Homo sapiens: one gene and its partner. The protein of the gene in region 1 interacts with the protein of each later gene in a pairwise test. Each region holds a gene or a part of one and is shown on either strand. Other genes may lie near its edges.

Region 1 (3,655 bases):
ATTGTGTATCCTTTTACTTTTCCAGAACCCAGAGCAACTATTACATGATCAGCTCTGGTTTGGGAACAGAAAGAGATTCCCCAGCACCATTTTTAGCCCCTACATGGTGCCATAATGCTGCTTACTGTTGACCAAGCTAAGTTCTAAGTATATAGTTGTGTTGGGGATGAGAGGGGCTGAACAACTAGCCCGTTCCCAGCAGAGTAAAGCAGGGGAAGTGGGATGTCACCAAGTCCACTGAGAAGTTGCAAGGAGCAGGTTGGGCAGGTAGCTTTTCACCACAGAACCACTCTTCTATGGTGACCAGCACTGGTTCTGAGACTTCTGAAGGAATGGAAGAGGTCTAGGAATTAAAACAACCTCAACAGTGTTAATTCACTCTACATTGTCTTCATTAGAACAATGAATGGAACCAGGTGAAATCTTTGTTACATATATTTGGTTTTTCTGTATATAATCAATTACTGTTAATCTGATCATTGTAGAGAATCATTGTTTGCTTCATAATTGTTTATCTACAGTTTTTTTTTAAATAGTTCTACCACTTATCCCTTTTAGCATTTTGGTAATTTTTTAATCTTTTCCTTTTAAAAAAAGAATGATGCAGTGATACTGTATATGCAAGCTTATATGTCTAATATAAATTACTTACAAAAATGGAATGCCTACTTTCGGATTATTTTTATCCTAAGAAACATTTTTACTTAGCTAAGGGAAATTTTCAGCACTGTATCCATCTGCATCTTTAAAATAAGCTATTTTCTTTATGATTTTTTTGGTGGCACTCATATAATTGTATAAACTAAAACGAATCCTAATTAAATTCTCTGGCATATTAATGCCTATTATTTGGTATTATTAGTTCACGTAGGAATATCTTCATAGATTACTTTGATTGATGAGAAATTAATCTATTTAAAGAATCAGACTTTTGGAGTTCTAAATAACCATCGAAATAATCTAGTTGAGCTTTTTCTTTTTTGAACATCCTGAAACTTGAGACTCACGTGTGCAAAATGAATTGTCCCAGGGTCACACCGCCTTGGATTAGCCTCCGAGTCGGGATCGGAACCTCATGCTCCAGGTCTTGATCATTCCAGGACTGTTTTCATAGTGTTGTGTTGTCCTTATATATAAGGAATAGGCTAGTGTTCATTCATATGAATGATGACATCAGCATCTCAGGTCTGGAGGTACAATCTTTACATGTGAGGTTAAAAGTATAACTGTTGTGGGTTATATAAACTATTCAAGTTAGGTTTCTTATGGTGGCAAAATGGAAGACTTGAGATAGGTGTTGGATGACCTAAACCTGGAGCCCTATTTTTGTAAGATTCTTTCTTTTGTTCTGAACTTCAGCTTGCCCAGTTATTGGCGGAATTGAACTCGATGCCAGATTTCTTCCCAGTACGAACCCCAACCTCAGCTTCTGTAAGTAGAACTCCTTATAATTATACCAATACTGATATATGGTGATCAGCCACCAGACGGCTTTTATTCGAGAGAGTCCCCAGTTGTCTCTGTCTGTGCTCTTGATTTCAGAGGAAGAAGACAGTGAGGCGGGCCTTCTCGGAGGGACAGATCACGCGGCGTATGAACCCAACCCGGAGTGCGCGGCCTCCTGAGAAGTTTGCTCTAGAGAACTTCACTGTCTCAGCCGCTAAATTTGCGGAAGAGTTTTACAGCTTCCGAAGAAGGAAGACAATTGGGGTATTTTCTGACTAATACATGAATTAGTTTTTGTCTGAGCTACCATCCCTCCAAACGTGAACGCACGTCACTGTCACCCCAGGGCTGGTTCTGACCCCGTGGGTCTGCGGCAGCTGAGAACTTGCATTTCTCTCTGCTTCCCAGGTGATGCCATTGCTCCTGAGATCACACTTTGAGAAGCAGCCCTGGTCTAAGCTGGAGGTCACAGAGAGAGTCTTTTATCCAAGCCGAGCTGAGAAGCAGCTCATTTGTTAGGACCCTGCTTTAATCTCTGCTGCAGGCAATAAAGAAAAGTGCAGTGATTCCTCCTTGCCTTTCTGTTTTAGGCATGAGGCGTTTCAAGCGCTTTCAGTTTGGAGGGAGCAACTGTGGACCCATTTGTGGGTTTGGCTGTTCAGTGTGGTTCACCTCTCCACAGAGTTTACAGCAAAGAACCAAAAACCTTGAGTTCCTCCTTTATGATTGTATCGCCTTGCTGAGAAGGAAGCTTGGCAGGTGGCAGGAGCTCAGTAAATAACTAAATGAAATGGCTGCAGGGAAATAGAAGAGGGACGGGGTTAACATTAATGGTGCTAGATCTTTGAGAGTTTAAAATATTTATAATTTTTTTATAACTGCTCAACACATCTCCATGTTCTGCTTGTGTTCATTGTGCAGGGGAAATGCCGGGAGTACAGACGACGTCACCGTATATCTTCTTTTCGGCCAGTGGAGGATATCACCGAAGAGGACTTAGAAAATGTTGCCATAACTGTTCGAGATAAAATCTATGATAAAGTTCTGGTAAAGTATACATTAATTGTCATTCTTATTGGGAGTCGAAGGCATTGGTATTGAAATCTCACTTGTTTTTAAACTCTATCAGGGCTTATGCCATCTCACCAAGGGCTCAGAGCCAGGCTCTGAATTGGAGGGTCAAAAGTCAGCTGTACCTGGGAAAGGGGAGGCAGCCTAGTGCAGTAATTCCCATCTGGACGGCGGTCTCTCTTAGGGATGCGTAGAATCTGGGGGAAGGGAACGGTATAGTTTAAAAGGGATTTTTATATGTAACTGTTAATGGTTTAAGCATATAGTTTTATGTTCTAAATATTGAAAAAAGTATATTTGGGGGGTAATATAACCATAGAAATTAAAGTTTGGCAGAATATCTTTGGTAGGAAATGGGTTAAATTTCTTCTAAATGGTGATTTAGAGGGAGGCTTTGCGTTCTGCATTTTTTTTGTGTTTTTCTGGATATGTAACGGGACACTGTCAAGTTTTAAATTTAGTTGCCAATATTTAAAAAAAAATAGATCTCACATTGAAGGTATCCAGGTCTGCAGAGCTAGGCTGGGGCCGAGGTGATGCCACCCAAGGCTCATTGCCCCTCAGTCACCTGTCACCTTTCAGGGGCTCTGCCACCCCTGCCTCAAGCTTTTCTCTGGTCTCTCTTCCTGACAGCCTGATCATTTCATTCCTTCTGGGTCTCTGCTCAGCCTCATCTGACCTAATATGTTTCTCTGGCCACAGACCTGTGATGGTTACATTCTAGAGCAGTGGTCCCCAACCTTTTTGGCACCAGGGACTGGTTTTGTGAAAGACAGTTTTTCCATGGATTTGGGGGGCAGGAAGGGGATGGTTTCAGGATGAAACTGTTCCACCTCAGATCATCGGGCATTAGATTCTTATAAAGGGTGCACAACCTAGATCCCTCACATGTGCAATTCACAATAGAGGGTTTGTGCTCCTATGAGAATCTAATGCTGCTGCTGATCTGACAGGAGGCAGAGCTCAGGCGGTAATGCTCGCCCGTCCGCTGCTCACTTCCTGCTGTGCAGCCCGGTTCCAAACAGGCCACAGACTGGTTCTAGCCTGGGGGCTGGGGACCCCGGTCTAGAGACAATGCTGTGGTTCTTAGGAAAACAGTCCTGCTTGATTCGAGGAGACGGGGGTATTTCTTCATATA
Region 2 (3,655 bases), on another chromosome or scaffold:
ATGGATAGAAAAAGATACAAAGGACATCTAACAAGTTTCCCCTGCTGATGACTCCAAATCTACATCTTACTCATTGAACAAAGTTTTAGGCTCCTACTATTTTCGACACTGCCAGATAAAATCCATCTATTTACCTCAGAATTTTCTCCTGACCTCCAGCCAGATGTAGCCAAATGTCTAATGGACACACGAATTTGGAGGAAGTTAAGAATTGTAACACCTGGCATGGACATGATCCATTGCAAAATTAAACCATTCAAACCAGTCTCTGAGCTTTGAAGGCCCCCCCACCTCAAAATGTCCTTCAGGAAGACTGTAAAGCAGTGTGGTGAGATGGGTTCTGGTGTCAGACAAAACAGCTATGCCACCTTCCTGCTGTGGGAATCTAGGAAAAGGTATTTAACCTCTCTAATTCTCATTGGAGGGTACCCAGAATAATGAGTTCTAATAAAAATATAAGTAACTAACTCACAAGATCACTGTGAGAAGAGGAAAAAAACTTGTAAAATATGGTGCCAACACAGTGTTTGACATAGAATAGGCACTCACAAAACGTTTCCTGCCTTCTCTTTTGTGAGATAACTTTGATGTAAATGAAACAGCCTAACAATTTAAGAGTTATGAATGTAGTAGCAAAATTAAAATTGAACAAATAATACATTTTGTCTGAGATTCTGAGTCATTTCTGTGTTGCGGAACGAGTATCTGATACAGCTGGAACAGGAGAAAAATAGTTTCTCTTACATTAAATAGCCTATAGGAACTCCTGCCTCCTTTATGTAGAGTGCGCACATTTGGCCATGAGCGTGCACGTGCACACACAGAGACACGCACACTCACACACACTCTCTCTCTAGGTACTGTTATCTTTGTGTGTGTGTATGCCTTACTTCTGTAACTAGATTACAAACTCAAGGATATTTTCTTTTTTGCCATTTTAAGCCACAGATACTAATGAACAAGTTAGCTTACTTAAAACGAACTGGTTTGCTATCTTAAGTAAAATGTTAAAAATATGCCAATCTAGACAAGATAAAAATCAAACATTTTCAGCCCAAGGTATAATATTCATTTGATACCCCCAAAATAGTCTAGCTCAAACCTAGAGCCTGTCACAGGTGACTCTGTGTTAAAGATGCAGTGTATAATGTGTACACTGTAATGTACAGCCTGCTAGAGTTTGAAGATGGCTTAAAATGTTCTATCTCTGGCTCATTTTACATTGTTTCAATAATCTCTTTAACTTCCCTGAAAATGGCCATGAGTGTATTATAACTCAAGTGATCAACAACTACAATTGAGCCTTTTCTGATATGCTCCTTTATGTTAATAAATATGGCCACACCACTAACAAGATTGGCTTTTGCCTCTTTCTGGTTAAAGATGAGTTTTAATGCTGCCAATGCCTTCATATTGATCATGTCTCTGGCTGCAGTTGGATTTTCAGACATATTTAAAAGTAGTTTCAAAACAAGATTTCTGGTTTTGCAATTTCCTGAGGACAGCAAATGGAAAAGCTCTGAAAAGTAATTGGCAACAATGTAGTGATGGACAAAATCAGTAGTCAGTTGTCCTAGTATCTTTAATCCAGATTGCTGTCCCGGTGAGTTCAAAGGAAATGACATGGTTTCTTTACACATATGCTTAACATGTAATTCAATTTTGCGTTGTCTTTCATCCCCAGAAGGAGGATTCAGAGTAATTACAGTCTTTTTTCTCATTTCAGGGGAAGGAAAACTGAGCAAGCTTTCAATAAGTGTCACTACACCTACTTCGTTAATAAACTCTTGGGCAAATGGGTGAACATTATGGACACCCATTGCAATCCGTGCTATTTTATGAATAAGAGGATCAGTAGTTGACTTAAGTAAGCTAACAAGTTTTTCAAATTCCTCAGAATCCATATAGCATTCCATTTTGCAAGGACAAGCAAATGGCTTAATCCCATTTACCTCCCTGATCCTGATTTGACGTCTAATCTCATCTATGGTCTGGATGCAGGGGTCAGAATCAAAACGACACTCAGGGATAGGCTGTGAGCATGAGCGAGTGTTCCTAGAAGGGCGGCAAGCTGTTGCCACAGGCAAAGAACAGGCATTTTCTTCAGCGGAGGCCAGAACAATATATGAAGGAGGGCTTGCCTCAGATGGTGCCTGGGATCTAAATCCTAACACAGCTGGAGTTACAGCAGGGGCATTGGGCCAGATAGTTACCTCAGACCAGTCCTTGGGCCTATTTTTTTCATTAATTTCATACACAGGCTGAGGCTTAACTATCCTGCTCACAGGTTTAGGATTAGGGTCAAAACTAGTATCATCTCCTTCCCAAAACCAGTTCCCAATAACATTCTCTTCCTCCTCCTCCTCAGCCCCTGACCTAGGTTTGCAATCGGCCCCAGCCGCAGGTTCCAACTCCTCAGCACAGACCTGGGCACCAATTTCAGGTTTATCATTCTTAGTGCTGAAACTATTACCAGCCTCTTCTCCATTCCAGAACCAGGAATTGATAGTGGCCTCTTCCCCAGCCCAGAACCAGGCATCAGTACCAGCCTCATTTTTACATGTGGAGCTGGTGGACTCATTCCCAGCCTTGGGAGTGAAATCTCCCATGGCTTTGCCCAGAGTCTTAGGCTCTGACAGAGCTCCTTCCTTCGTCTCAGCAACAACCTTGTTCTTAGACACTGCCTTCATCTCTGCTACTGCATCTGTCTTAGACCCTGTCTTGGCTTTTGCTTTGGCCCTGGTCTTGGCTACAGGCCTAACAACACCAGTAGCCTCCCTCTCTGCTCCAGCTTTAGCTTGTATAGCAGCCTTTTTTTCAGTTTTGGCCTGGGCTCTTGTCTTATTCTTAGTCCCAGCCATGGTTGAAGCCCAGTTATATGGCCCTGTCCAGTCTTGGCCTTGGTTCTCAATGTGTCCTAGGTCGAAGTCTTAACACTCTTTCACTGGGTCGGGGAAAAACTTGGTAGCAAGAATTAGAGTCAACTGTCAGTTCTGCAGTCACAAAGTTCTCTTTCCAAACATACAGCCTCTGTCAATGATACAGAGGGCAGAGGCACGCTCGGGCTGGGGGAGAATGATTGTTCCCAAGTGCAGACCTGCTGAAGGTGATGGTCTTCCAACAATCCAAAGCCACCACAGCCACCAGTGGAGATGGACCTGAGGTTGAAGAAAGAAACTGGCTTTGAGTCTTGTCTAACTGTGCTTCTCTATGCAAACAGCCACACAGAAGGACATAGGAGAGTAGAAATGAATTGTGTAGAAGTGGATTAATAAAAAACTCTGCTACTTAATTTTATACCTTGCACACTGCCACTAATGCTCAACAATGTCCTGCCCAAGCACTGTCATTCTTTTACTCTGCATCAAACAGGAACAAAGATGGCAGGTAAGCTTGCTGAGAGTGAGAAAGGCTAAAGGAGTGCCCAGTCTCTTTGGACCCATGCTAGTAGGTCCACCACTAAAATATATACCACTAGACCTCATAGGTGTATTCAGGCAGCACTCACACCAACCTGCACTGATCTAGTGCAATTTTTCCTCCTTCCCTGTTTGCAGTGTTGATATGCCCTATAGTTAACTCATGGGCAGGCCTATGGACAAAAATACAGATGGGATTGGAGTTCTGAGTATTTGGTTGACAGACCTACACTCTA

Evidence for each region.
Region 2: the proteins of CDCA7L (region 1) and GPRASP3 interact in binary tests that used the Homo sapiens proteins (3 or more experiments, as listed by UniProt).

The regions. Positions count from the first base shown.
Region 1 is NC_000007.14:21,904,344-21,907,998, reverse strand, and holds part of CDCA7L (cell division cycle-associated 7-like protein), read left to right. Parts: intron 1-1,359; coding exon 1,360-1,431; intron 1,432-1,542; coding exon 1,543-1,710; intron 1,711-2,367; coding exon 2,368-2,493; intron 2,494-3,655. UniProt on the Homo sapiens protein: Plays a role in transcriptional regulation as a repressor that inhibits monoamine oxidase A (MAOA) activity and gene expression by binding to the promoter.
Region 2 is NC_000023.11:102,748,202-102,751,856, reverse strand, and holds part of GPRASP3 (G protein-coupled receptor associated sorting protein 3), read right to left. Parts: intron 3,159-3,655; 5' UTR 2,862-3,158; coding exon 1,218-2,861; 3' UTR 1-1,217. UniProt on the Homo sapiens protein: Survival and differentiation promoting protein that plays a role in the regulation of neurosynaptogenesis. Induces phosphatase PP2A activity which results in APP dephosphorylation and inhibits BACE1-mediated processing of APP.